Homo sapiens: one gene and its partners. The protein of the gene in region 2 interacts with the protein of the main gene of each other region in a pairwise test. Each region holds a gene or a part of one and is shown on either strand. Other genes may lie near its edges. The genes, in order: PCNT, TRAF3IP1, SPTBN1 and WAC.

The links.
Region 1: the proteins of TRAF3IP1 (region 2) and PCNT interact in a two-hybrid assay, tested with the Homo sapiens proteins (2 studies listed by BioGRID and IntAct).
Region 3: the proteins of TRAF3IP1 (region 2) and SPTBN1 interact in a two-hybrid assay, tested with the Homo sapiens proteins (2 studies listed by BioGRID and IntAct).
Region 4: the proteins of TRAF3IP1 (region 2) and WAC interact in a two-hybrid assay, tested with the Homo sapiens proteins (2 studies listed by BioGRID and IntAct).

What each region holds. Positions count from the first base shown.
Region 1 is NC_000021.9:46,319,985-46,327,158, reverse strand, and holds the start of PCNT (pericentrin), read right to left. Parts: upstream 3,004-7,174; 5' UTR 2,931-3,003; coding exon 2,877-2,930; intron 2,493-2,876; exon of another isoform or gene 1,949-2,492; intron 872-1,948; coding exon of another isoform or gene 783-871; coding exon 570-782; intron 1-569. Other genes in the region: uncharacterized LOC128092249, read right to left, coding at 668-871; uncharacterized protein C21orf58, read left to right, coding at 4,421-4,520. UniProt on the Homo sapiens protein: Integral component of the filamentous matrix of the centrosome involved in the initial establishment of organized microtubule arrays in both mitosis and meiosis. Plays a role, together with DISC1, in the microtubule network formation.
Region 2 is NC_000002.12:238,351,516-238,358,538, reverse strand, and holds part of TRAF3IP1 (TRAF3-interacting protein 1), read right to left. Parts: intron 5,713-7,023; coding exon 5,589-5,712; intron 5,367-5,588; coding exon 5,330-5,366; intron 2,536-5,329; coding exon 2,459-2,535; intron 1-2,458.
Region 3 is NC_000002.12:54,641,304-54,648,326, reverse strand, and holds part of SPTBN1 (spectrin beta chain, non-erythrocytic 1), read right to left. Parts: intron 5,345-7,023; coding exon 5,198-5,344; intron 4,005-5,197; coding exon 3,741-4,004; intron 3,099-3,740; coding exon 2,874-3,098; intron 2,400-2,873; coding exon 2,310-2,399; intron 2,134-2,309; coding exon 1,852-2,133; intron 1,197-1,851; coding exon 1,066-1,196; intron 1-1,065. UniProt on the Homo sapiens protein: Fodrin, which seems to be involved in secretion, interacts with calmodulin in a calcium-dependent manner and is thus candidate for the calcium-dependent movement of the cytoskeleton at the membrane.
Region 4 is NC_000010.11:28,529,145-28,536,138, reverse strand, and holds the start of WAC (WW domain-containing adapter protein with coiled-coil), read right to left. Parts: upstream 3,022-6,994; 5' UTR 2,696-3,021; coding exon of another isoform or gene 2,560-2,695; coding exon 2,519-2,559; intron 2,142-2,518; coding exon 2,105-2,141; coding exon of another isoform or gene 1,957-2,104; intron 1,906-1,956; exon of another isoform or gene 1,793-1,905; intron 596-1,792; coding exon of another isoform or gene 578-595; coding exon 382-577; intron 1-381.

The DNA of each region.
Region 1 (7,174 bases), on a different chromosome or scaffold from region 2:
AACCCGGGAGGCGGAGCTTGCAGTGAGCCGAGATCGCGCCACTGCACTCCAGCCTGGGAGACAGAGCGAGAATCCATCTCAAAAAAATAAAAAATAAAATAAAAAGAATAAAACCATAAAAATTTACTCACTGTTTTTTTTTTTTTGAGAGAGAGTCTCGCTCTGTCACCCAGTCTGGAGTGCATTGGCGTGATCTCGGCTCAATGCAACCTCTGCCTCACAAGTTGAAGCTATTCTCCTCCCTCAACCTCCCGAGTAGCTGGGATTACAGGTGTGCGCCAGATGTCCGGCTAATTTTTGTATTTTTAGTATAGACAGGGTTTCTCCATGTTGGCCAGGCTGGTCTGGAACTCCTGACCTCAGGTGATCCGCCTGCCTCGGCCTCCCAAAGTGCGGGGATTACAGGCGTAAGCCACTGCACCCGGCCCTCACTTTTTATAAACTAAAATAACACCCTCTTTCCTCACTTTTGAAAGGCAAAAACAGACCAAAGACCATCTTTAGTAAATCACACTAGAAATCACTAGAAGATAAGCGAAATGTTCAAATACAACATTGAGCAAATCTACCTGAGCTGCAAAGGCCCCTCCTGCCCCATCAGGGGTGTCGTCACATGATGTGCTTTTGCAAATGTCCCCTCCTCCACAGAGTGCGCTGTCCTCCTTGGTTACCGGACTCTCCTCCTGGACAGACGCATCGACAGCCGAGCCCTTCCTCTTCGCCGTCTTTTTCTCCGAATGCGAACTGTCACCTTTTGTTTTTCTCTGTCGGAAGTGAGCAAGCTGCGCAAAAATGTAGATAAGTAGTAAAGGCAAAGGTAAGTGAGAAAAAAATAACAGAACCACAAAGTCAACAGACTGGTGGGGACCATGAGGCCCGAGGGCTGACCCAGTCTACTCTGCCACACCTGGCCAACAGATGGCTCTCCACAAACACTGCCTTCATCAATATCTATATCCAAGGGGTCTAACAATGAGGACTGCTAATTATGCCTGGTAAAGAAAACCATACGGCTGATTGGCAGAATAGCTTTCCTAGCCCTTGGCAGTTTACAGAAAAATAAAACTTTAAAAAAAATTTGTATAAAAGATTGATAGCTTAATCAAGGCATATTTAAGTTTTAAAATGATATAAAAGCTAAATCTCTCCCTTCTTGCCCCAATTTTCCCCCAACTGAAGAAATATATAGCCCAGCCAAAACTTCCTAGCCATAGATTCTGAGACAAGATACAGAAATAGCAAAAAATTAATTAAGCCAGGTCAATCTCACATCTTCCTTTATGGAATCAGATGTTCTATTTTTCATGACACAGCTCACCAAAGCACCAGGGACATCCACAGAGCATCGCCCATCAGAAGGCACAGCCTAGCTCTGCTCAGTCCTCAAATCCGAGAGTTTGAGACTATGTGCGAGCCTCATCTCCCGCTAACGTCTTACTCAAGAGGTATGCGATCGATCCCACATCAGCCTTTCACGGGGAGACATCTGTTCCCTCAAAAGACAACTGTGGCCACAAAAACAAACGCATGGAACACACATTTGTGTAAATGATAACACAAGTACACAAGCTCATGGACCCAGAAAAATTACACAAGGCCATTTACACAAGAAAATGGTCTCTCAAGGAAATATTTCCTTCAAAGTCAACCTCATGTCGTTTATTTTCATGTCCTCCTCCACCACACCTATCCATGTCGGGATATAGCACAGACCTGGTCTGCGGCCTGCGTCGCCCTACAGGCGGCGTCTTGTCCCTCCCTCCCCCCTCCACCCTCCTGGGAGCTCTGCTCCTGTTCGCAGCTCCCTGCAGGCTCCGGGCTCCCCTTCCCCTCCTGCCCGCCTCAGCCCTTCCCCGGCCTAGCCCCGCGTCCCCTGTCCGCCGTGCCCGGGAGCCCCGCTCTTCCCCAGCACCCCAGCCAGAACATCCTGGGGGGGAGCGGCGCGCACCTCGCAGAGGCCGGCCTGCTCCCGCGGTTCCGCCTCGCGCTTTCGGGACTCCCTTTCTCCTGCCCCCGAGTCATGGGCTCTGCGCGCTTTATTCCCACGAAACCTAGGACAGTGGCCATCAAACCGAGCGCTTTTTCACGGAGAAACCCGGGGCGGGAGAAAGACGGGAGCGCGTCCCTTGAAGGCGCCCGGCGCCAGCGCCGCGTGGGTTCCCGGCAGCGTACGCCAGGCCCGGACGGGCAGGACGCGAGCCCAAGGGCGCGGGAAGAAGACGGCGGCCGGGAGCGCCGCGGGGGCCTTTCACACAGTAAGGACTGCAACGCCGCGAGAAACGCGCGGGGAAAGCATCTCCGACGGACGAGGCGAAGGCGCACCCTGGGGAGGCGCTGCAGGCCACCCGCGCCACGCCCCCGGCCCCGGCCGCGCAGGAAACTGGCCCTAGACCAAGCAGCCACCCGAATACCGGCCGCCCGCCCCAGGCCACCCGGTCCCGGAGGACGCGGGAGCCACTGGAAGATCCAGCCTGGGGTCCAGCGCCTGCCGCGCCCCACCCCCTCCGTGCAGCCACGCCACGCCCCTGTAGCCCCGCCCTGCAGCCACACCCCGCCCCGGCGTGCACCGCGCCCAGCCCGCGCCCCACCCCCCCCGACGCAGGCGCAGCCCCGCCCCGGCCCGCCCGAGAGGCGCCGCGCGTCCCGGCCGCTGATTGGCTGTGGCCGCGGCGGGGGCGGGACCTGGCGGAGAGCGGCGGATTCAAGATGGCGGCGGCCAGGAGGCGGCTTCCAGCGGAGCCGGCGGGAAAAAGCGAGACCTCCGCGGCGGCTTCCGCCGGACCGCGTCCTCTCCTGGCAGGGGGCGGTGGCGGGCACCGGAGCCGCCCTTAGGACTTCACGCCAGAGCAGCTAGAGAAGAAGCCCCTAATGTTTACCTTCGTCCTCCCGGCCTCCACCTTTCTGCGCCGCTGCTCTTGCTCAACTTCCATCTCCCTCAGACTCCGCGCGGGCCGCCCGGCGGTGACGGGGCTGACACAGAGCAGCCTTCGCTCTATTTACACTCCCTCCCCCGCGCTTGGGCTCGCCCTCCCCCCGCGACAACTGTCACGCAGCCGCGGCCCCGCCCCCGACACGCGCCGCCAATCAGGGGGCTGCGTTTCCGGTCTCGCGCACGCGCGCTCTGGGCGGTGCAGCCTGGGCGGAGCCCCGCCCTTTACGCTCGCCGGCCACAGATTGGTGCGCTCACGTACCCGCCTCCTACGGCAGGACCAGTAAGCGGAAAGCGGAGGCCTGGCGCCCGCTGTGATTGGCCGATTTTAAAATCCCCTGCCAGGCTGGCCGAGCGGCAAAAAGTTCGCGCTGCTGGTCCCGCGCGGGCGGCCCCTGGGCTTTGTGTCCACCAGGACAGCGGGCCGGGCTCCCTGCAGGCGCGGGCGGCGCCGAACGGTGCTCAGCAACCACCCGGACAGGGCCAGGCCGTTTTCTCCCGCTCAGGCATTAGTCGTTGGCTGTGGGCCGCCGCGGGAAGTTGAGGCCTACCACGGAGGAGGCTGCTGAGGTGGATCTCAGGGGATCCGCAAGGGCTCCCTCACCCTTGCCGGGACCCTGGGAACCCGAAACAAAATCCTACGCCACCAGCCCGCCGAATGCGCCCCCTCGGCCGGGGGTCCTGGGTCTTCAGAGAAGAACTCGGCCGAATGCGGTCAGAAAGCCCGCGAACCGCCTGGACCTGCAGGCCCCGCCGCTTGGAGCTCCCGCCTTTCCCGACCGAGCCCGTGTCTGCTCGTGTGTCTCACTGATGTCTTAGGTCTCAAAAAAAAAAGAAAAGAAAAGGTTTTTAGTAGACAGAAGAGAAATGGGGCCGTGGGTTCGTGGTCCCAGGGGGAAACTGACGTCGCATGAGGTCGTCGTCCCTCAGCTTGAGCTCAGCGGAACATAAGCTTGCAGAGGTGGAAACCACGGAAGGTTTGGGTGTCTTGGAGCTCTCTGGACACCGAAGCCCGGACACAGTCCCGGGGTCCGCACCGCCTGTGACCTGTGGCGGGACCGCCGGGGTGGGCGTTTTCTCAGCTGGCGCGCGCGTAGGTGGAACTTGGGAAACTAACTGGAGCGAAGTGGCAAAAAACCAAGACAGGGCCGGTGACCTCGCGCAGGCCGTCCTTAACTGTGGAGTATTCCTTCAGCTAACCCCTTTATTTCATGTGTCCAAGTCTGGTTTCTGGGTTTCTTTGTAGTCCTCCGGGCCTGTTCGTGCGCCTTCACTTGCAAAAGGTTCGTCGTGGAGGGCCGTGTGCTTGTTTGCAGCAGTAACGATGCCCTTCCCGAGCGTGCTGGAGTGGCTCCTCGCTGACGCAAGCTCACCTTGCAGCCTCCTCAGCAACTGCAACTTAAACGCGCCCTCAGGAAGCCCTGGAATCTCGCTCAGAATTTTTTTTCTTTTTTTGAGACAGTCTCGCTGCGACGCCCAGGCTATAGCGCAATGGCGCGATCTCGGCTCCCTGCAACCTCCCTCAGGAAGCCGTGGAAGCTCGACCGCCAGAAACTTCCTTCTCCTGACTCAGGCCACAGTCTTCTGTGTGGTGAGCGGGGTGTCCAGCGGTCTCCTGGTTCCCAGACTCGGAATTGGGTGGTTTGAGCAAACTCTGGGCAGTGGGCTCATTAGAGCAGGGGCCAGGCAGGCAACACAGCCAAGCGAGCAGGGGCTGCACCCACAGGATCACACTTTCCAGGAACAGAGACCCAGACCGCGCCTGAATCTCACAACTGTTACGTGTTACAATACATTTACAACTGTGGGACTGAGGGGATGTGCCCAGGTTTGCCTAGACTGTGTTCCTCAGAACCCCAGAGTCGTTTCTGTGGACATCCTAGAGAGGTTCTGCTAATGTTGGACTTGGGTCTTATTTCAGTTCTTTTTTCTTTTCTTTTTTATAGGCAGGGTCTCAGTCTGTCACACAGGCTAGAGTGCAGTGGTGAGACCACCGCTCATTGCAGCCTCAACTTCCCCGGGCTCAGGTGATTCTCCATGTCAGCCTCCTGAGCAGCTGGAATTACAGGCACACCACCATGCCCAGCTAATTTTTGTATTTTTAGTAGACACAGGGTCTCACTGTGTTGCCCAGGCTGGTCTTGAACTCCTGGGCTCAAGTGATCCACCTGCCTTGGCCTCTCAAAGTGCTGGAGTTACAGGCATGAGCAACCTCGCCCAGCCTCAATTCATTTTAAACTATTAAAAAGCTGTCAAGGCCAGGCAACCACTGCACTCCAACCTGGGTGACAGACTGAGACCCTAACTCAAAAAAAAAAAAAAAAAAAAGCTGCCCAGATAAATTTTGTAGATACTCACCCTCAAGGAGGGAAACGTAACTCCCCTCTCCTTAAGTGTAGACCACACATAGCCACTTCCTCCCAAAGAGTGCAATAAAGAAAAGGAGGGAAAGAGCCACTTTATTGTGGAGAAAACTGGCAGACTCCACCTCAGCCAAGTGACGCAGGTCAGCCTCACAGTTATAGTCGAGGTGACAGTGTGTGTCCCTGATGTGATGGGGTGACAGTGGCACTTCACCCCTAGATGCTTCCTTTCTGTAACCTGCAGTCCCAGTCTAACCAGGAGATAATAGACACATTTTAATTGAGGGACATTCTTCAAAATATCTGCCCAGTACTCTTCGAAACTGTCAAGGTCATCAAAAACGAGGAAAGTCTGAGAAGGAGCCTAAAGACACATAACTCAATGTAATGGGGTGTTCTGATGGATACCACATTAGGGACATGAGGCAAACCTAAGGAAACTGTCAAAGTGTGGACTTCAGTTACTTGTGTCTCAATATTGGTTCATTAATCATAACAAATGGGCCAGGTGCACTGGCTTTCACTCAAAAATTAGCTGGGCATGATGGCACGTACCTGTAGTCCCAGCTACTCGAGAGGCTGAGGCAGAAGAATCGCTTGAAACTGGGAAGCAGAGGTTGCAGTGAGCCAAGATTGCACCATTGCACTCTAGCCTGGGCGTCGCAGCGAGACTCTGTCTCAAAAAAAATATATATATATATAACATATGTAGCACACTAAGGTAAGATGTTAATAAGAGGGGAAGCCACACATGTGGTATGTGGGATCTCCATGTACTATCTTCTCAATTACTCTAAATCTAAAACTGTTCTTAAAAACCCTATTTAAAAAAAAAGTCTGACAAATCCATGCCCTCTGGAGCATGTTATGTATACTACTAGAGATCCCGAGGAGGCAATTCTTAGTGCTTCCCATTCACTTGGCAGTCACAGCTGTGGGCACACAGGCTCAAGTCTCTCCTTAAGTCAGTCAGTATTACAAACCATACATAATAGTATACTTGACCACTGCATAAATGTTATAAACATTCCACATCAAGAGAAAGAGGAGAGGAAAAAAAGTTAACCAGTTCAACGAAAAGGAGAATCTGGCAAGGAAGCATCTCTGATGTGGGCAGAGCCTGCAGCAGCAGATGTGGAGGGCTTCTCACAAGTGACAGCAAGACTGTCTGTAAAACGGCCACTTTGACCTGGTGGTGTTCTGCTCTTTTCATGGCCATAGAGTACTCTGGTAAGGACTGATAGTAAGAGTGTCTTGTTTATGTCTTTATCTGGGTGGGTGCAGTATCTACTGATGAGGAAACATCTGGTCCCTGTTGGCCTGATACCCTTTTTTTTTTTTTTTTTTTTTTTTTGAGGTGGAGTTACACTCTTGTTGCCCAGGATGGAGTGCAGTAGTGGTGCCACCTTGGCTCACTGCAACTTCCGCCTGCCTGGCCCTATCTTATAATTTAAAAGGCATCAGGGGCCAGGTGCTATGGCTCACACCTCTAATCCTAGCACTTTGGGAGGCCAAGACGGCAGATCACTTGAGGTCAGGAGTTCGAGACCAGTCTGGCCAACATGGTGAAACCCCATCTCTACCAAAAATACAAAGATTAACTGGGCGTGGTGGCGTGCACCTGTACTCCCAGCTACTCGGGAGGCTGAGGCAGGAGAATCACTTGAACCCGGGAGGCGGAGGTTGCAGTGAGCTGAGATGGCTCCACCTCTGCACTCCAGCCTGGGCAACGAGCAAAACTCCATCTCAAAAAAAAATACATAAGATGGAGTCCTTTTCTCAGATGAGGTCACTTATATCAAGGGTGCTCTATACAGTTGCTTAACTAAATTAACCTGGTTTTTGTTCTGTGCACACTCAGAGCTGTTTAAATGTCTCCCAA
Region 2 (7,023 bases):
TTTTTGAGACAGGCTTGCTCTGTCATCCAAGCTGGAGTGCAGCAGTGCAATCACAGCTCACTGCAACCTCTGCTTCCTGGGCTCAAGCGATTCTTGTGCTTCAGCCTCCTGAGTAGCTGGGACTACAAGTGTGCACCACCATGCCCAGCTAATGTTTGCATTCTTAGTAGAAAGGGGATTGGCCATGTTGGCCAGGATGATCTCAAACTCATAGCCTCAAGCAATCCGCCCACCTTGGCTTCCTAAAGTGCTGGGATTACAGGTGTAAGTCACTGCGCCTGGCCACATTTTTATTTATTTAAAAAAAAAATGTAGCAGGAGAATGGCGTGAATCCGGGAGGCGGAGCTTGCAGTGAGCCGAGATCGCGCCACTGCACTCCAGCCTGGGCAACAGAGCGAGATTCTGACTCAAAAAAAAAAAAAAATGTAACAAAAATGTTTTAAGAAGACCAACAAGTTAAATTTAAGTCTGATGTTTATCAATATCCTAAAGAAAATCATACAGACACTTGCTGATTTTCCCCTAACTGTAACATACATCAACCCTGACTTTGAAGTTCTCACTGACCACTCTTTTTCAAAACAGCAGATGTTTACCAAAAAAGGACACTTTTCCTTTCATCTTCTGAAGCCCAAAGATTTACCAATCTGAAATAATTTACTCTTCCAAGGAGACTTTGAAACACAATCCTAATATGCTTTGCGTAAAAATCATAGCTATAAAATTGAAACCAATGGAGGCTTCAAAGGTGACCTCCACTAGGAGCCTGGAGGGACACATTCAGGGTTTTCGACTGGGTCTCAGAAATACCACCAGGGACACCAGGACAACCCCTCATGCATACAGAAAGGACTATAATGTATTAACATTCCATCAATGAAAAAACAAACTGCAGAAGGCATTTCTCCTTTCAGCAAGGCAAACAGTGGTGCTGTCAGCAAAGCCTCCGCCGACAACATTCTCCAGTTATTATTGTTAAAAGGGCTCCCTCTACTGTTAGTCTCAATTGCACAGTTCTCATTGGCTATTTCAGGCCCTAGCTTTGTGACAAACTAGGACATGTTAAGCAAAATTATCTAAAACAACCATTAATTCAGCTGGGGAGAAATACATATATGTGTGCATGTGTGTGTACGTATGTGTGCACACATCCCTATATATAAAACTTTTTTAAATTGTTGAGTTATTAGGCTAAATATCCAAGAAACTTCTGTTTAAAAGAAAAAAAAAATTCTTCTTCCTCTTTAAAGTGACTGTAAGAGAAACCTGGCTGTGGCATTTGAGACACACCCTGTTGGCCCACAGGTGCCCGCCCTAGTGGTCATGTGCCCAAGGAAAGGGTAGTGGCTGGCAAGAGGCCACAGGTCCCAACAAAAGCACATCACACATGTGTGAGGGAGACTGCGGGGAACCAGGTACAATAGAACATGTATTTAAAAAAAAGACTTAAAAACATTCCCGGCCAGGCGCGGTGGCTCACGCCTGTAATCCCAGCACTTTGGGAGGCCAAGGTGGGTGGATCACGAGGTCAGGAGATCGAGACCATCCTGGCTAACACGGTAAAACCCCGTCTCTACTAAAAATACAAAATATTAGCTAGGAGCAGTGTCGAGCACCTGTAGTCCCAGCTACACGGGAGGCTGAGGCAGGAGAATGGCGTGAACCCGGGAGGCGGAGCTTGCAGTGAGCCGAGATCATGCCACTGCTCTCCAGCCTGGGCGACAGAGCGAGACTCTACCTCAAAAAAAAAAAAAAAAAAATTCCCAGTCTCTTACTTTGCAATCAGCCAGGATCAGGCAGCCAGCCTCCCAGTCTGCAAACAGGACCTGGGAGAAGGGATGGGCAAGGCCAGAAGGGGAGAGTCAGGGAGTCAGAGCCCAACAGGCCTTTGGCTCTTGGCTCCTGAGCTCCCCAAGTAAGCCGCTGCCCCCTCCCAAGACGGGGCTGGATACCAGGCCAGGGAAGTAGCCCCACAGAGGAAGTCCCACACTTTATATCCTCCCAACTGGGAGGAGGGAGGAATGGCTTTTTTTTTCTTTCTGAGGCAGGGTCTCACTCCGTTGCCCAGGCTGGAGTGCCGTGGCACAATCTCAATCCACTACAACCTCCACCTCCCAGGTTCAAGCGATTCTCCTGCCTCAGCCCCCCAAGTAGCTGGGACTACAGGCATGCGCCACCACACCCGGGTAATTTTTGTATTTTTTGTAAAGACAGGGTTTCACCATGTTGCCCAGGCTGGTCTCGAACTCCTGGGCTCAGGTAAGCTGTCTGCGCTGGCCTCCCAAGGTGCTGGGATTGCAGGCGTGAGCCACCATGCCTGGCCAGGAATGGCATTTAAATATGCAAACAGACATCACTGATAATGGTAATATTGAAAGATGCTCCAACTTGTAAAAGTCTGTAAATGCATGAAACAGACTGCTAAAATGCCAGTGTTTATGGAAATCATTCCATTACCTTCTCCCCAGGTTTGGGTGACTGCTGCAATTTCTCATAATCTTTCTTCGTCTCCAAAATTTTTTTCACAAGTCCACCTGTTGAAAAATCAGTGATTTTATGTTAAAAGTTTATTCTCTATCCCAAAAACCTATTCTAAATGGGTGGGATGGTGGGAAAAACACTAAGTTTTTATCCTATCTCTTTTTATGCTGAAACAGTTTCAAATAATCTTTATTTGTTAAGGAGATAGTACACAAGAGTGATAGACAGCTGGTAGTGGAAATTATCACATTTCAAAGTGTTTCAGGGAAATCAGCTCCTTGAAAAGTAAAAAGCTTTAGAAATAAAATAGATTTTCTATTTTCAAAGATTAAGAAGGAGTGTAGATTGACATCCAAAAATATAGCCATTTATTACAAACAGAAATAACAAGAAATGCTTCTAAGTACGGATACTTCTTTTACACTGGGGCAAGACTATTCCACTTCTTTCAGAATTTACTCATGGGATAAATATCATGTGAAGTTTTTTGGAATAGTGTTTCACCCAAGCATACATCAGCCCGAGGCTGACTGAATAAACGAGGGTACGTCCACACGGTGGAGGACGACGTGGCTATGAAGGAAATGAGGATGGTTTCTCTGCATTGCTGCAAAATGAAAGCCTGCATCTGCTGTCAAATTAAAAAGAGCAAGATGGAAATAAGTGTAGGTATCAGTAAATACACATGCACATGCATATGCATTTATTTATTTGTTTGTTTTTCAAATGTAAGTATAAGCCCTATTTTACTGTTACCTACAGGGAGAGGGAGAGTAGAGGGTAGAGGAGACAGGGAGAGTAGAGGGTAGAGGAGACAGGGAGAGTAGAGGGTAGAGAAGACGGGTCAAAGCCCCACATTTCTGATTATACCTGGTTTTGTACATCTGACCTTAAAATCATGCGAATTATCTTACATTAAAAAGGTAAACAACACTAATGCCTAAAGGTTGAATGCAAAATGAAATAAACTTAGTGATATCCAATTGGCAAGCATGCGCCACTAGAGAATTGTTTCACAACTTTAAAACAGGGTAACTGACTGTACATCCCTAATAGGATATACCCAACAAACAGGCAGACATACCTACCAAAAAAAAAAAAGTCCTTGGGCTGGGCTTGGTGGCTCACACCTGTAATACCAGCGCTTTGGGAGGCCAAGGGGGCCGATCACAAGGTCAGGAGTTCGAGACCAGCCTGGCCAACATGGTGAAACCCCGTCTCTACTAAAAATACAAAAAAATAACTGGGTGTGGTGGTGGGCGCCTGTAATCCCAGTTACTCAGGAGGCTGAGGCAGGAGAATCTTTTGACCCCGGGAGGCAGAGGTTGCAGTGAGCCAAGATCGCGCCACTGCACTCCAGCCTGGGCGACAGGGCGAGACTCCATGTCAAAAATAAATACATAAATAAAAATAAATAAAATAAAATAAAATAAAATCCTTCAGCGTTTCCAGTAATCCTATTGTTGTTAAAAACCAGTCGTGGTGTTCTAAAATTGCTATGTGAGCATATGAAGGATCATAAAGCATGGGGACAGCCGCTGCTGCTGGGAGCCAGGCTTTTTGGCATGAGATGGAAGAGATGCATATATAAAACCAAAGAATGCAGGCAAAACCCTACAATCCTAAATCGGAATTGGAAATATCATCACTAAGTCAGAATATACTTTCTTATTTTAAAAAAGTATATCCCTGCTTTTGCAGTGAAAATGCCTGGAAACAAGAAGCAACCCAGAGCAGTAAGCGGCCAGGTGCCTTGGAGAAATGAGGCAGTTATGGGGCAGGAAGTACACAAAATAAGCTGGAAACACCTTGTCGTATCAGAAAACAAGGAAGCTAAAGAGTGTACTGGGATGTGTCTAAAGGCCCCCAGAAAATAACTCCAATAGGCTCCCCTGGTCAAATACTGGGCAATCTGAACATTAATAAGAAAAACTGAGATGGGCTGAAATGAAACACATCCACTATGTTAAAAATCCGTGACTAGGCTGGGCACAGTGGCCCATGCCTGTAATCCCAGCACTTTGGGAGGCCAAGGCGGGTGGATCACTTGAGGTTAGAAATTGGAGACCAGCCTGGCCAACGTAGCGAAAACCTGTCTCTACTAAAAATACAAAAATTGGCCAGGCATAGTGGTGCACGCCTGTAGTCCCAGCTACTTGTGAGGCTGAGGCACGAGAATCACTTCAACCCGGGAGGCAGAGGTTGCAGTAAGTTGAGATAGCACCACTGAACTCCAGCCTGGGTGACAGGGCAAGACTCCGCCTCAAATAAAAAAGGGTGGCTTCATATAGATACCAAAAAAAACCCCAAACCCCCAAAACCAACAAGCCCTCGTTACTCACCTGTGATAGGTGCCAGGAAACAAAGTCATATTGTGAGAACAGATCTATAAAGGAAAGTACTCAGCCTGCCTCTTCTGCAGAAACTGTGTTCCAGGATACTCAAACCCTGGTGTGGGGAACGGGGTTTGCACTACTGAGTTGTCCAGCTAGAAAACCAACAATAACATTCCAGAACTAGACTTGCAAAGGGCCTCAGAGATCATCTACTTCCACAATTTAATCGTACGGAAGAGACGAGATGTCATCTGCAGGACAGTTGCCAGTGAGTTTCCAGCTTCCAACTGTGCCCTCCCCCTCCTCTAAGGATGGGGAGCAGCAGCCATCGCCTTAAGAGTAATCCATGCCCGCAGGGTCCTATGTACCACCAGTGTGATCCCGCCAGTGTGACCCAGACCAGAACCTGGCACACAACAGTCCCTTGCACTGGATCCTTCCAGGCCCACGTGGAGAAGGTGCATGAGCACACACACATGGACATACATGCACACTCGTGCCCAGGACTCACCATGCTTCTCCTCTTCTTCTAGTTCCACTGCTGTTACCTGAGCAGGAAAGGAAGGGGGAAAAAGAAGATTCAGGCTTGTTGAATTTTAAAGATCATGCTTCTGTGGATCTCAAAAAAAGAACAACAAAATTAACGAAGGTAGAAAACTAACTGAAAAATTACAGGACATTTTTGTCTACATAAATCTAAAAGCTAGACTATTAATCTCAATGAAGGTAAAACATTATTATTAAAAAACATCATATTTCGGTTAACTAACCATTTCAATTTCTGACATTTCAGAGAGCTGAGGGGCAGCTTCCACCACAAATTGATCATCCTCTTCATTGTCAGAATTGTGTGACTCTGTAATCACATTTGAAACGGTTTTACCACTCCCTGACCTAAATAAAAAGAAATTAGATTAAATTAGAATTACACATTTTCATCAGTCCCAAGCATCTGAAACTGTGTCAGAGGTCGGCAGAGAGGAATCTAATCACCAACCATCTCTAGCTAGAACAGCATCTCAAGCTACCCGCTGAAGCTAAGATGGACTGTCTGCAAACAGTGTCCTCTGCAAGCCCTCCAGGCCTGAGTCCCTGTGAGCCTCGCCCTCCACCCCCACCCAGCTTCCCCACGTCCCTGTGCTGCCCAGGCCTCCTGGTCCACACCTGGCCTCCCGTCCCCACAGCCTCGTCATGCCCTCTACTGCACAAAGACCCTCAGGGCCTCCGCCTCTCCCCTGACTGCGCTCTCAGTGACACCAGCCCTTCACCTGCTGCTTTCTACCTGGAGGCGCTTATTGCCCTGGGTCACAAACCTCAGGGCAGGGGCCACATTGGGGTCCCACTGACCAGGGCTGACCCCAGACCTCTCTTCACACAGCCAGCTGGAGGCCCCTCATTCAACTCCTAGTCACAGTGGCTGCCCTATGTCCCGCTCAGCACCACGTACACACTGCGCTCCACCCAAGTCCACATCATTCTGGGCAAGTCAGCGTCCAACAGCCTGGCCCTCCAGCCCCAGACCTTGTCCTCCTTGGTGACAGCCTTCACCCAAGGGCTCTCTCATGCTCTCCAGGGCCACCTACTAGAACTGCCCCACCTACAGCTGCCCCACTCCTCCTCACTCAGGCCACTGTCAGCTCACTCTGTACAAATGTGAGCCCCCGACCCAAACACTCTACAGGCTCCTTAATGGCCCCTCCTGCCTTTGTTTCTTCCCTACACACTTGTGCTTTAAGCAATCACCTAACTCCCCCTGCCCCGTTATCGCAGTGCTGCATGCGTGCACATGCATACACACACACACACACACACACGCATACACACAAGCACATGCACGCACACGCGCGCGCGCGCACACACACACACACACACACACACACACACACCAAAATCCTCCCTTGCTTCAGTGCCATGCACAAGGTCCAGAGGGAATGTAGACACTTGGGAACGACCTCTGAAAATAACACCCATTGCCCCAAACATCCTCGACTTCCTCAACTGGGTCCTTGAGACACTCAACAACCACCTGTGTGGCTCCGCCAGGACCAACCTCACTTCGAACCCGCTGCTCTGTCAGTACCAGGAAGTCCAGGCTCCCGTCCCTCGTCTCTCACGCTCCCAGCACACCCTCACTGTGGCCCACGATCCACCTCCTCAACACCTGCGCCCCTGTGCCTGCCGTGATCGGCAGGCCCTCTCTGTCCC
Region 3 (7,023 bases), about 180 Mb from region 2:
ACAAAGGACATGTTGGTGCCTATCCCTGGAGACTAGGAAGGCCACTTTCCTGGGAATCCTGATCATGAACATCTTAAGAACCTCCTACACCAACAGAGCCACTGACCTCATCTCCCCTAACCTGCCCTGGTTAAATGCACAAGGCCAATTCCTTTCCAAGTCATAAAAGGCATTTACACAAAAATCCTAAAATGACTGCTTTGGAAGTTAATACAGGGGCCTGATGAGTACCACACACTCACCTCTTCTTTTTCCTCGAAGGTGTTCTAATCACTTGATATCGAAGAGTTAGGAGGTGTTATCACTTTGTTCTTCCTGGGAGCCCCTTCATTTTACAGGTCTATGCATTCTTGTCTAATGCTCCTCTTAAAACTAGTAATTACTTTACTAAACTGGATGACTTTTTCAACCCAAGTGTAAGTGCTATGACTATCTGTATCCACCATGCAAGTCAACCTGTACTTCTGATCATTTTTATTTTTTTGAGACAAGGTCTCACTCTGTCACCCAGGCTGGAGTGCAGCAGTGTGAACATGGTTCACTGTAGACTCAAACTCCTGGACTCAAACCATCCTCCCAACCTCAGCCTCTTGAATAGCTGAGTAGTACAGACGTGTGCCACCACACCCAGCTGATTTTTTGTATTTTTTGTAGAGATGAGGTTTCGCCACATTGCCGAGATTGGTCTTTGGCCCCCTGGGCTCAAGCAATCCTCCCACCTTGGCTTGGTAAAGTGCTGGGATTACAAGTGTAAGCCACTTTACGTTGACTGCCCAGCCTAGTCAACCTGTACTTTTGACTCACGACACCAATATTCTTTCAGGAGAGCCTTGGCCAACGGGAGATATTTAACCCACAAGAGCAATTTCCTAATATAACAGTTCACCCATCCTAATCATGATAGGATGTTTTAAATGATGGGTCTGTTTTAAAAATGCTTCTCAAAGATTTGCCTTACCAGCAAGTCATGATGAATGCTGACATTTTCTTTTGGTGGGGGTTAGCAAGAGACCCTAACTGAGAGGAATCGAGAGCCGGGTCTCACACTCATGAAGCAGCGCTCACCTTTCAGGATGGCTGTCGGCCACCAGGGCCCGGCTGGTCTTGGAGAGCTGATGCACGGTCTCTGCATAGTCCTCCACAGCTTGTTCTAAGATCTGGTGCTTCTTCAACATGGAGACAGCACTCTGCTCATCCTGCAAAGACAGGAGAACATCACAACCATAGCGGTCCCCTCTGGCCCTACCCCTTAAGGAGTGACAGACCAGCTGCTCAGCAGGGTAGGAGGAAGGATCAGTAGAAAGAAAAACTCCAGAGGTGCAGTACGGACAGTGGAACACAGAAGTGTTCCAAGAGCTTCCATATGGACTGGACCACAGAAGCCTGTGCAGAAGATAAACACAAGGAGAACGCAGAATGAGCAGGGCCCCTCTCAGAGAAAAGCTTGGGCAGACCAAGTGTGCCTGGTTCGCTGGAATTCCTCAAGGTCCCTCAAGTATGTAAATGGCAGCATTCCTGGAACCTTGCAATACTTTCAAATTGTCTCCAAGCCATCCTGTATTTTGTAAAGTTTAGGGAACCTATAAATAGACAGCAGGAAGGACTCTGGCATATTTCAAAGATGAAAGGATGAACCTGTTCTTAATGGCACACTAGGATTCAGATAAGAAAATGCTGCACCAAAGGGAAACCAGCAGCTGGATTTCAGACACCTTCATGCACATGGTGTCCCCTTAACACTCAAAGGCTACAAGGGAAGTTTTTATACAGACAGAGCCGCCAGCAGAAAGTGTGCCCAGGGTTTGAATCTGAGGCTCTCCTGGGACAGGGATGCTTCCCGCCTCCTCTCACCTTGGCCTTCTCCTCTGACATCATGTACAGCTCCTGCTCGCTCATCCAGGCTTCGGCCTCAGCAGCGTCAAAGTAGTACTGCTGGGCCCTGTGCGCCTCCTCCAGCCGCCTGTGGCGTTTCTCTGTCTCCTCAATGAGGAGACCCCACAGCTGCTTCAGGTCGGCAAGCCTCTGTCTGATGGCCTCAGCGCTGAGGCTGCTGCTGTCAGTGACGATGTTTTGGCTCCTCTCAAAGATGTCGTCAATGCGAGGCTGGTGCCCCTGGATTTCTTTCTGGAGGGTCTGGAGGGAGCGGAAAATACACACAAAGGCTTGCTAAATGGCAGCCGTCTGCTGCTTATGTCAAGCTGTTAGGGCCAGAAAGAAATAGCAAGGCTTCAAAGCTCTCTGCCATTCCCAGTCTCATAATTTAGAGCAATTATTTATCAGACAGAACTAGCTCGAGCAGAAAGGCTTACCTGATTTTTCTTTATTAACAGCTGCACAGTCTGGAGGTTGTGGCCATGATCCGTGGAAGTTGCCAAAGGCATCCTCTCTCCAACCCACAACTGGGAAGAATTTTAAATAAGTGGTCAGATCCACTCAGAGGAACAAATATACGACACAAACGAGCAGTGAGGGGCAGTGAGGGACAGCAAGGGTGAGCTTCAGAGAGTGCTCAGCCCCCTCGGGAGGGCTGTCTGGGGAAGCACGCCCTTGTTCTCCGAGACAGGGCTAGGGAGAGTCTTTCCAACTCTACCTCATCCTCAAGGTCAAACTCACTGTGAGTCCTCATTACTTTTAAAAAGTCTGTTTTAGGGCCATTAAAATCCTACAGTATCCCTAGATAACGTGAGAGGACCAATGGAGTTACATTTAGGGTGAAAAGGGAAAGAAACTTTAGACCATCCAGAGCGTGGACTTTGGCAGCTCAGCTTGCCAACGTGGCCCAAGGTGAGGATGACTGAGAAGTGAGAATGTGGGCTTTAGCACAGGCAAGGGGGCTCGTGGAAAAGCCATGTGTGCAGTAGGGGTCGACTCACGATCTCGTCCTCCACATCCCTGTTGAACTGATGGATCTCTTTGGAGGCCAGCAGGTTATGCTTCCTCTCGTTCAAGGGCTCCAGCAACTCCATGAACTTGGTCTGCACGGTGAGGCGCTTGCTGTCTACCTCGTCGGTGCTCTTCCCTTCCTGACTCAGGGCCTGGGCTTGGCTTTGGAGCTCTTCGATCTCCTTCTTCCGCACTTCCATCTGATTCTCCAGCATCTGAGGGCAGAGAAGCAGCCTCAGCGCTCAGCACAGACTATCTTTTGCAGTGACTGGCTCTAAGCAGAACTGCTGGGCCTGGGACTTGGCCACACCGCAAAGCCAGCCATGGGAGCCACTCAAACATTTTGCCACTGACTTGCTTTTCAACATCAATGGAACTGTTTTCAAGTAAATCTGAGGTAAATTCATTTGCCCTTAAAGCCCTCTACGGTGATATAATATAAACAGTTATTTTTATTACCTATAAAGTGCCTTGAACAACTCAGATAACTGTCACAAATCACGATGTTAAACAACAAAGTATGAGAATATTTCTTTCGTGTAAAATGCAGAATTGAATGAGATGAACATTTATTTAACTGTTAAACGGTGATAATACCCATTAACTAAGAAAATTATCAATCCCATACACAGACAGCCAACACCCAATACTCCTAATACTGTGTCTTTCTAGTTTGGACAAGTGTCTTTCTATTCTGGAAATGTTCTACGATGCTGTTAGAGCAAGTAATATTTTGGGTTAAAAATGCCTTCCCATGGAAGGTGGACTCCTGATAATGCAGTGGGTGAGAAAAGACTCTAAGGACTATGGCTGTAAAACAGAAATACACCCAAGTCCATGATGGCTTGTCCACTTGCCTGTTGCTTTTTCAGCAGGATATTGACACTGGTCAGGTCTTTGCCATAGTCATCAGACTGAATCTGACTCTCCAGGCCGTGCAGCCATTTGTCTAGATCTGCACAGCTCTGGGTGAAAAGTTCGGCCTTGTTTGCATCAAAGAGCCGCTGGGCCTTTGTCTGGGTAGTGGATTCAAGGACTTCCCACATTTTATGTAAACCAGTGAGTTTCTCCTTCACCACAGCTTCCGTCTCAGGCTTTTCTGAAATGAGCTGCATTCCTTCCTGGAAAACAAAACCAACATGGTTGTAAATAAACAAGTTTGCTACAGAAAAAATGTCACTGTGAAAAACAAACCTAGGACATTTGATCTGTGATTTAACCATTCACTCAATACACACAGTCTTTCCACATGAAGTTACTGCTCAATAAAATCAACAACGACCCCTAGGTTGTGTACATTACAAGGGTTTCATGGGAATTAAGCAATAAATGTTACATGCTGAAATAGTCTCAACTGGGGCAACGGAATACTGAATGCTAATAACGTGACTTTATCTCCTCCATTCCATGACCAAAGATGATATACAACACATTATTATTATTATTATTATTATTATTATTGTTATTATATTGAGACAGAGTCTCGTTCTATCACCCAGGCTGAAGTACAGTGGCGTGATCTCAGCTCACTGCAACCTCTGCCTCCTGGGCTCGTGCCTCAGCCTCCCCAATAGCTGCGATTACAGGCACATACCACCAGGCCTGGCTATTTTTGTATGCTTCATAGAGATGGGGTTTCACCATGTTGGCCAAGCTGGTCTGAAACTCCTGGCCTCCAGTGATCCATCTGCCTTGGCCTCCCAAAGTGCTGGGATTACAGGCATGAGCCACCGTGCCCTGCCAACACATTATTTTAACCGTGAAGAATCTGAAACACTATAAAAAGTCTAAAAGGAGAGAAGTCGGGGGGAAGGGGGGGACTCCATATTCATCTTCAGTTATGCTGCCCAGAATCTCTCTGTGCAAGAATAACACATCATAGTAATTATTATAGCGCCTGGTATACAGTAGTCTCATAGGAAAAAGCAATTTTAAAAAATATGTATATATTTAAAATTATGTGCAATCTGTCACAGTACAACACAAATAATATGATCAAGACAGTGGAATCCCTGCATGAGAGCTCACAGTCCATCAGCAACAGCAGATGAGAGGCACAACAGAAACTAAATGCCTAGTATTCGTTCTACGATAAATCAAGCATTTTCTACTAACTGGTTGGGTTTCTGCTTTTTTCCCTTTTGATGGGTTGAAGTCAGGAACCCGTACGTGCAAAGGGAGCTATTACTGGCTGTGTAACTTACGTAAATGTACAGATAAGATCAGATATGCTGGAAAATGTGCTAAATAAAAAGGAGTTTATTACTACCCTGTTTGTTTTCTCACCATGGCCACATCAAATGTTTTAACTCACCTTCTCGATTTTGTCAAGCCATTCTTTGTTGGATGCAAGTTCTGCCATAAATGCTTGATGCTTCAACCATTTACTGTGCAGATTTCTGGCTTCATCGTAAGACATGTCCTGGGCTGTGAGCATCTTCTCATTGATCCAGAGAGACAGCTACAGAAAGATCAGAAGGATTCAGAGATTGTGATCCTAGACATCAGCCTTTTTTCCGCCTGGAAAGGGTTGTGTTTATGTCATATTATGCATACTACACACGTTTCCATGGTGACAGACAACCAAATATTTAACTTCACAACTCTGACCCGTCATGACAGGTGTCCATTAGATGGAGCTTGTACCTGAGCTCTGCTCCAAACTATATCTAACATTCATTCCAGAAGTACAAAAGCTCTATAAGCCAGTTTTCAAACTGTTTGGCACTCATAACTGGCTTTCCCCACAAAAGGCCCGTGTTTAAAATTCTACCCTAACCACTCCAAGACATGACTCTTTTTCTCTTCCAAATACCTGTGTCAGCTATACCATGTTAATCATGATTGACTTTTACTCCATTTGGCAATCCTTCTTACTCTCTTAGTTCTTTTTATTAAAAAAAAAAAAAAAAAACTACTTATTTATTACCTCCCCCTTTTTGTGGGTGCATCGAAGGGAATGCAAAAAGGCATAAATAACTTGCTCACTGTAGGGCTAAGGCAACAATCATGCCCTTTCAATGTTTCCTTCAAGTTTGAGTCACCTTCACCTCTTTTTCTATAGCCTCTAGTTCTCTAAAGAACCTTTCATTCACACCAAGAACACTTCACAGGACTTGATTTTGAGACCCAACATGTCTGCTTGGATCTGAACTCTAGAGAGCCGCACAAAGGCTGCTGGCCGCTGACAGACCTGAGAAAGGAGCTCTCTTACCGGGGTCAGCCAAACGCCAGGCCCAGACCCACTTTTGCTGGCTTCCATCCCGAATCGGCCCTGGCTCATTACTGCCTGCCTGTAAGGGCCATGCCAGAGTCCTGATTCCCGCCCCATTTGCTTTGCTAACCTAGGAAGAGCTTTTTGTTTGCCCAGGCTGAAGATACACAAAAGAATGCAGAGCCAGCCTGGAATCAGAAGTAACCAACTGAAGGGACCATGTCCCTTCTCCTGAGTGACCGTGAGAAGCCCACTTTTACACCAGTTATTGTCACAACAAATTGGCACCTTAAATCCTTCATGGTTCTACCAACAAAGATCTAGAAGTGACACATAAAACCAGTAGAAGTACTTACAGAATTAACACTTCCAAGGCCCTTCCACTCCCACTGTGGGCTGCTGCCAGGAAAGGCTCCCCGAGATTTGTTTTTTGGAAATGATGTCAAGGAGAGCGACGTGGGTCACAGGAGCCCTCTGGCTCTGAAAGTGGGTGAACTCTTGGGCACTGTCCCTATTCTCAGGCTATTCACCACACAGGGAATGGGGCAGGGGGCGGGGGTGGGAGGGGGTTAAAAGCAAAAGGTAGTGAGATTTTTGATTTCACTCTTTGTTGAGGGAAAAACTAGCAAATCTCATAAAGTCCTTTGTCATCAAAGACCATGGATCTATTAGACAATAAAGGCACGCACTTCCTACTTGGAAAAAATTATCTATGTTCCAGTTATCTGGGCAGCTAAAATCTGAAAGACTATGGCTATTCAATCTTAGGGGAAAAGAAGTTAAAGTAAAACTTAATGACAAAATTTTTCCCAGTATTCTGTACATACACACAAAACAGAAGGCATTTATTGATTCAAAGTGCCAAGGACATTCACATATTTTCGCTATTCATAACCACTTACCCAAGAGGGATTAAAAAGAGAGAG
Region 4 (6,994 bases), on a different chromosome or scaffold from region 2:
AAGAGCTGGCACTACAGGCGCCTGCCACCACCACCATGCCCAACTAACTTTTGTATTTTTAGTAGAGATGGGTTTTCACCTGCTGGCCAGGCTGGTCTTGAACTCCTGACCTCAGGTGATCTGCCCGCCTCGGCCTCCCAAGTGCTGAGATTACAGGCGTGAGCCACCGCGCCTGGCCTTAAGAGTCCACTTTTTAGATGCTCACATCAGCATCTTGTTTCTACAGTAACTTGTTCAGAGTAAAAAAAAAATGATAGGATTAAAATATTTTAATGACATAACTGAACAGTAACTTCTTCAAGCTAGAAATACTACTGCCGCCTTTTATATAGAGCTATTGTTAAAACTGTATGTCAAAGTTTCAACAAGAAAGATACTCACCACCATCCCTCTCTCTAACTCTGTGAGTATGCACATTTTTGGCCTTACTGTGACCTGTGCTGTCACTGTATTTGTTTTCAGGACTATCAGATCTCCGCAACATTTTATTTGGTGGTGAAGGATCTCCGGCGTCTCGCATCTTTTCATGTCTGTGATCACCGCTACTGGGGTGACTCTTCGATGAATACTTAAGTGCCTGTAAAACATCACCCCCCCAAAAAAAGAGAGAAAGAATTGAAACCTTAAACTCCCTAATTTAAACATAAACTTTGGTGTATTATCATTAAATTTTATGAACTTACAAAATTAAAATTTCCACTTTCAATTCTGCTTTACTCTTTAAAGTTTCTCAGACAAAAAACCTAATGCTTAAGCGTTACAATAAGACTCCTGATAACAAATCACACTAAACACAAAAAAAACCCACTCCATTATCTTATAAACCACCTTGCACACTGATTCTGCAAAAAATAAAAAAATTTGGCTGAGAATATTTAGAATCATTTTTTGATAGTCAAAAGAAAACTAGAAATTCAGTACTACTATAATCAATTTCTGCTCTACAGCTGATATACACAAACACATGTATAAATAAGCACATGCATATTTTTGCAAACCTACCAAAAAAAAAAAAAAAAACCCACACACCAGTTTCTCCAATTCTTTGATTCAAATAAAGCATTTCAGACCTAACTTCCTTACTCTCCCAGGTGTGGGAAACAATTTTAAGGTATAAAAATACTAACCAAAATAAACTAATGTGAGTACTATTTCTAACTAAGCATAATGCGCTCAAAATAATCGTTTAGCTTTATTCTAACACATATCTTAAGACAATCATGATGTACTAATCTGTTGCAATGTGTAATCAGCTATGCTTTGGAGGACAGATTCAGTAAAGTTTAATTTTTGACATATCCAATGTTTTACATATCAGAAGACAGTGTTTTCAAATTCAGCTGTATAACACAACCATCAGGTTAGAAACCTGCTCTCTAGTCCTTTAAGATGTAGAAAGTGTTTTCTGCAGTCATCTGATGGTTAACAATCATTATGAGGTTTCCCTCCTGAAAATTGGGGCCACTTTCATCATAATCCTTAGAACTTCACACACAATGACTGCAGTAACAAAAAGGAACCCACCTACCTAGAACCACCTACATCAGAATGATTATCCAAGTACCCAAAGACCTCAATTCTTACAGAAACAAAAGCACACATATCTTTTACTTGTAAGGCAATTAAGTATACCAAAAATATTAAAAGGGGAAAGGGTAGTACTTTATAACCGACTTGAAAGTTGTAAGTCATTTAGCTATTTACCCAAGTTCTTCACTTAATTTTAATACCTTTACATTAACTTTTCAGTTCCCCCAACACAATAAATAAATAAATAAGCCTCGTAAGTCACCTATCATCTCATCCCATCGATTCCTTCACTCGCAAATAATCAAATAATCGAGTCAGGTCTTTCTGGCTGCAAATGATTCTTTTTTCCTAAATCAGCGAACTCCCTCCAGTCACCTGTCAAAATAAGTCACTAAACCTTGCTGGAGAGCGCTAAAGGAACCAAACCTGGAATTTTAAGGGGATCCGCGGTGCTAGTTTCAGATGTGTTGCACCGAAGGGCCTGTATCGACTTCTGAGGCCTGCGCTCGAGTAGCAGTCCCTCCCTTCCCCCTCCGGCCCCTTCCAATCCCTCCACCCCGGCCTCGGCTGGTACCTGGTAAGGCTGCGAGTCCCCCCTCCGGTCGTGACAGCTGAAAAACAGGAAGAGAAGGCAGCGACATAAGACACGGCGCGGGTGGGGGGCCGGGGAGGAAGAAAACGGGGCCCCCGCCGCCCCTCCCCGCGGGAGACCTACCGAGCGCCCCAGCGCCGAGCCCCGCACGCACACGGCACAAACCCGGAGCCTCCGGAAGGGCCGGAGAGGGCGAAATGCCGCGAAGCCGGGCCCCCGCTCCCCGCCACACTGCGTTCCCGCCCGCCCGCCCGCGCGGCCGCTCCTCCTCCCCAACCCGATCCGGATCAGGGTTAACAACAAAAATGGCGGCCCGGCCAGCTCCAGATAAGGAGGAACAGCCCCCCCGCCGCCGCCCCCCGCCGCCGCCCGGCCCGAAACGAAAAGACAATTTACCCATCACTGAGTCTCTGCTGTTTCCTCGCATACATTACCATCAATGCCCGGCCTGTGAGTGTGTGTCGGGGAGGGGGGAGAGCGGCCGCGAAAGGCGGGCGGGCGCGCAGGCGGCGGCGGCGGCGGGCGGCGGGCAGCCCCGGCACCTGGGCCCGGCGCGCCCTCGGCGACTCTCATCAGCTCCCAGTTACTGGCGCCGGCGCTCCCGGGCCATCTCCCTCCGTCGACACCACGCTCACTCTCAGCCGGGGCAGCGGCGCCAACTACACGGCGGCACCGCGAACCGGGGGGAGGGGGGCAAGACGACGCGTCCGGCTCAGCCCCGCGGAGAGCGACTGCCTCCTCCGCCTTCTCCTCCTCCTGCTCCGCCGCCTCCTCCCCTCCTCCCCCCGCCGCCGCCGCTGCTGCCGCCGCCTGGTCCTTCTTCTCCTCCTCCTCCTCCCGCCGCCGCCGCCGCCGCTGGTGCCGCCGCTGCCGCTCCACCAACTACATCCGGGCAACTCGGACGCTGCCGCCTTCGGGAAACCTCGGCAGTTTCCGCCGGGCCCCTCCTCTCCCACCCTCGGCCTTCCTCCCCGCACCGCGCGGGTCCGGAACACCGCCCTCGGCAAACCTCGGCTGGCTCCGGCCTTTCTCCTCCTCTGAGGCCTGGATCTTCTCTTCGCGACCAGTCTGCCCTTTCCTTCTTTTCCTCACTCGCGAGTCGGCCACCGCCGTTCCCGTTTAGGGATAGTCTCGCTCGGGCGCCTGCTCGAGGCTGATCTCAGGGGCTCCGGGCTGCGCAGGGAGGGAGCCGCCTTCCGGAAGAGGACGGTGGGGCGCGAGGGAAGCCATCGCGGACTAAATAAGGGAGGCTGCAGCGGCTGCGCGTGCGCCCAGAGGCGCAGCGGGAGGGGGTGCTCTCGGGCGAGCTCTCCGGCCGCGGCCCCCGCCCCTGCGCTGTCGGGCGGGGAGGTCGGAAACCCCCTGGCGAGACCACGGGCGGACGCTTCCCGAAGAGCTGCCTGGGCTGCAGCCGCGGAAGCTGCGTTCTGGGGAGCGGGGAGCGTGCTCCGGCGCCTTCGGGCCGCTGCTGGAAGCCGGAACCGAGCCCGGGCCGCTGCCCCTCACCGGACGCCGCGCGCCACCGGCCCTCCGCGGGGCAGGGGCTGCTGCGAGCTCGCCGGGCGCCCTTTAGACGTAAGTCTCACCCTGCGCCCCGAGGCAGGAAGGAGCGCGTGCAGTCCCGGCCAGAAACGGCTAATAGGAAGGGCTGAGGGGTTCTGTGTTCAAGGCAGAAGGCCGTGCGTCAGGGCGGCCCTCAGCGGAGATGCGTGCACGGAGCGGGGAGCGCCGCTCGGGGCAGGGAATGAAAGCGGCGCTTGAGACTGGAAATTTAGGGAGATGAGTTCCTTGGGAACAACGCTGAACCATCTCACTGCCCCACCCTACCCCTTGTTATTTTTTTTTGAGACAGGTCTCGCGCTGTCGTCCAGTCTGAGTGCAGTGACGCGATCACGGCTCACTGCAGCCTCGACCTCCGGGGCTTACGGGTCATCCCACCTCAGCCCTCTAAGTAGCTGGCACCACGGGCATGCACCACCACACCCGGCTAATTTTTTAAAAAAAGTTTTTCCGGAGATAGGGTCTCGCTGTGTTACCCAGGCTGGTCTCGAACCCCTGGCCTGAAGCGATCCTCCCGCCTCGGCCTCCCAAAGTGCTGGGATTACAGGCGTGAGCCACTGCGCTCGGCTTTTCACCCCTTTCTAACGTTTTCCATCCCTTTCTAACGTTTTCCATACCCAGCGGTGCCCTGCCCACCCTCTCTTTATCTCTCACTTTTCCCTCCTCTGTTTCTTCCTCGCTGAAGTCCATTGGTGAAAGAAAATTCATGTGAAAGTTCTCAGGTGTGTTAAGTGAAATTGCTACAAATTTGATTTTATGTACTGCTGCAGGTACATTGAGAGAAGAAACGTGAAGTATACCAAACAACCGTTAGTTGAGAGTGGTGGTATTCGGGTGATTGGTTGACTTTTTTTTTTTTTTTTGCACTATTTGTAAGGCAACATAGTTTAATGAAAAGAATTGTGGTAAACATAATTAGGTGATTAACACAGAAGAGGCAAATAGTAAACAAGTCAGAAGAAACAACCCCCTCCAAAAAATAAAAAGTAACTGATTTACTTGGTATCCAAGAAGTTACGTTATTGCTAGACCTAATAGAATGGAGAGATGGAATGATGTAGGGAGAAAGGCTCTGAAATCACAACTGGTTGGAAAAAAAATTTTAATTACATAATCTTATTTGTCACATCCATCTGCCAGATGTAGAGCTTATTGCTGTTTGTGGAGATGTGCAGACCAATAAAAAGCCTATTTAATGCTCTCTTAAACTACCAGTAACTAAAAAAAAAAATTGACAGTGACTGAAATTATGAAAACAAAAAAATTCGGTAGCATCTTAACATGTAATTTCTGACATATTTGTAGTGAATCCATTGAAGACAAACATCAGAGGAGTACAACAAATAACATTTCATAGAAACTTTGAAAACTGGCAGCAAAATTACTACTAATTTGTTTGATAACTAGATGTCTGCTGAAATTGGTATAAACCATTTGCTCAAAAGTAGCCAGGCATGGTGATGCATGCCTGTATTCCTAGCTACTCCCAGAGGCTGAAGCTGAACAATCACTTTAGTCCAGGAGTTCGAGACTGCAGTGAGTCATGATCACACCAGTGCACTCCAGCCTGGACGACAGAGGGAGACCCTGTCTCAAAAAGTAAATAGGCCGGATGCAGTGGGTCATGCCTGTAATCCCAGCACCTTGGGAGGCCAAGTCAGGTGGATCATTTTGAGGTCTGGAGTTTGAGACTAGCCTGGCCAACATTTTGAAACCCCATCTGTACTAAAAATATAAAAGTTAGCCAGGTGTGGTGGTGTGCGCCTGTAATCCCAGTTATTCGGGAGACTGAGGCAGGAGAATCACTTGGGCCTGGGAGGCGGAGGTTGTGGTGAGCCAAGATCTTGCCACTGCACTCCAGTCTGGGTGACAGTGAGACACTGTCTCTAAATAAAACCACATTATCAAAAGTCTGATCTGCTCTCCTTTACAGAAATACTTTATCTTTACTTCTCTCTCGAACCCACAGACTTCATTCCCACACTTCTGGACCTGTTCAAGATCATCTGTAGCATCCATGTTTTCAAGTCTGATTTTTATTTCTCAGTCTTCATCTCCACTTGTCAGCAGCATTTGACACAGCTGATAACTTTCTTCTCCTTAAAGTTCCTTATCTTGCCTACCAGGATTTCATTTTCTTTCTTGCTTCTCTTCCTTCCCAAATGGCTGTTCCTTAGACTCCTTACTGGTTTCTCCTTCTTTTCCAGCCTCTAAATGCTGGAGTGGCGTGAGATTCAAATCTTACAACCCGCACTCCTCTGTTCTCTCTCCCTAGGCAATCTCATTCAGATCTCTGGCTGGATGAAACCCACATTTGAATTTCCAGTCCACACCTTTCCTCTGAACACAAGACTCACACTTAACTGCCTACTGTATAGCACTGCTTGAGTTTCTAACAGGCATCACAAACTTAATGTATTCAAAACGAAACTCTTAATCTCCCCCCACCCCAAACAAGTCCTGCTGAGATCTTCCCAATCTCTTGAAATGACAACTCCATTCTTCTAGTGGAGGCTAAAAACTTTGGAGTCATCTTTGATTGTTTTATATCTCACATTGACTCCATCAACAAATTTTGCCAGCATTACCTTCAAAATGTATCCACAATCTGATCTCTGTAACCCACCTCCAGCAAGTTCACTCTGGTCCAAGCCACCATCATTAAACCTGGACCGTGGCAAAGGCTTTCTAACTGATCTTGCCCTTCTATGCCTGCTTCCACATTGTTTGCTGTCTCATACAGTGCAGTAATCCCTTAAAAAGTCAGATAATATTCCAATCTTGAATAAAAGCCAAAGTTATAGCCATGATCCACTAGGCCATATGTAAACTGCCTGTTACTTCTGGCTTCTTATCCACTGACTTCTTTATTTGCTCTTTTTTTGTTTTTGTTTTTGTTTTTGTTTGAGACTGATTCTCACTGTCGCCAGGCTGGAGTGCAGTGGGATGATCTTGGCTCACTGCAACCTCTGCCTCCCAGGTTCAAGCAATGCTCCTGCCTCAGCCTCCTGAGTAGCTGGGACTACAGGCACGTGCCACCACACCCAGCTAATTTTTGTATTTTTAGTAGAGACGGGGTTTCACCATGTTGGCCAGGATGGTCTCCATCTCTTGACCTCGTGATCCACCCACCTCAGCCTCCCAAAGTGCTGGGATTACAGGCGTGAGCCACCGCGCTCAGCCCTGCTTTCTCATTCTTTTCCCACCATTCTACCCTCCCTCCCTGTTTTCTCCAGTATACCAAGCATGCCTCTGCCTCAGGACCTTTGCACTGCTGTCCCTTTGCCTGGAATCCTCTTCCCCCTTAGTACT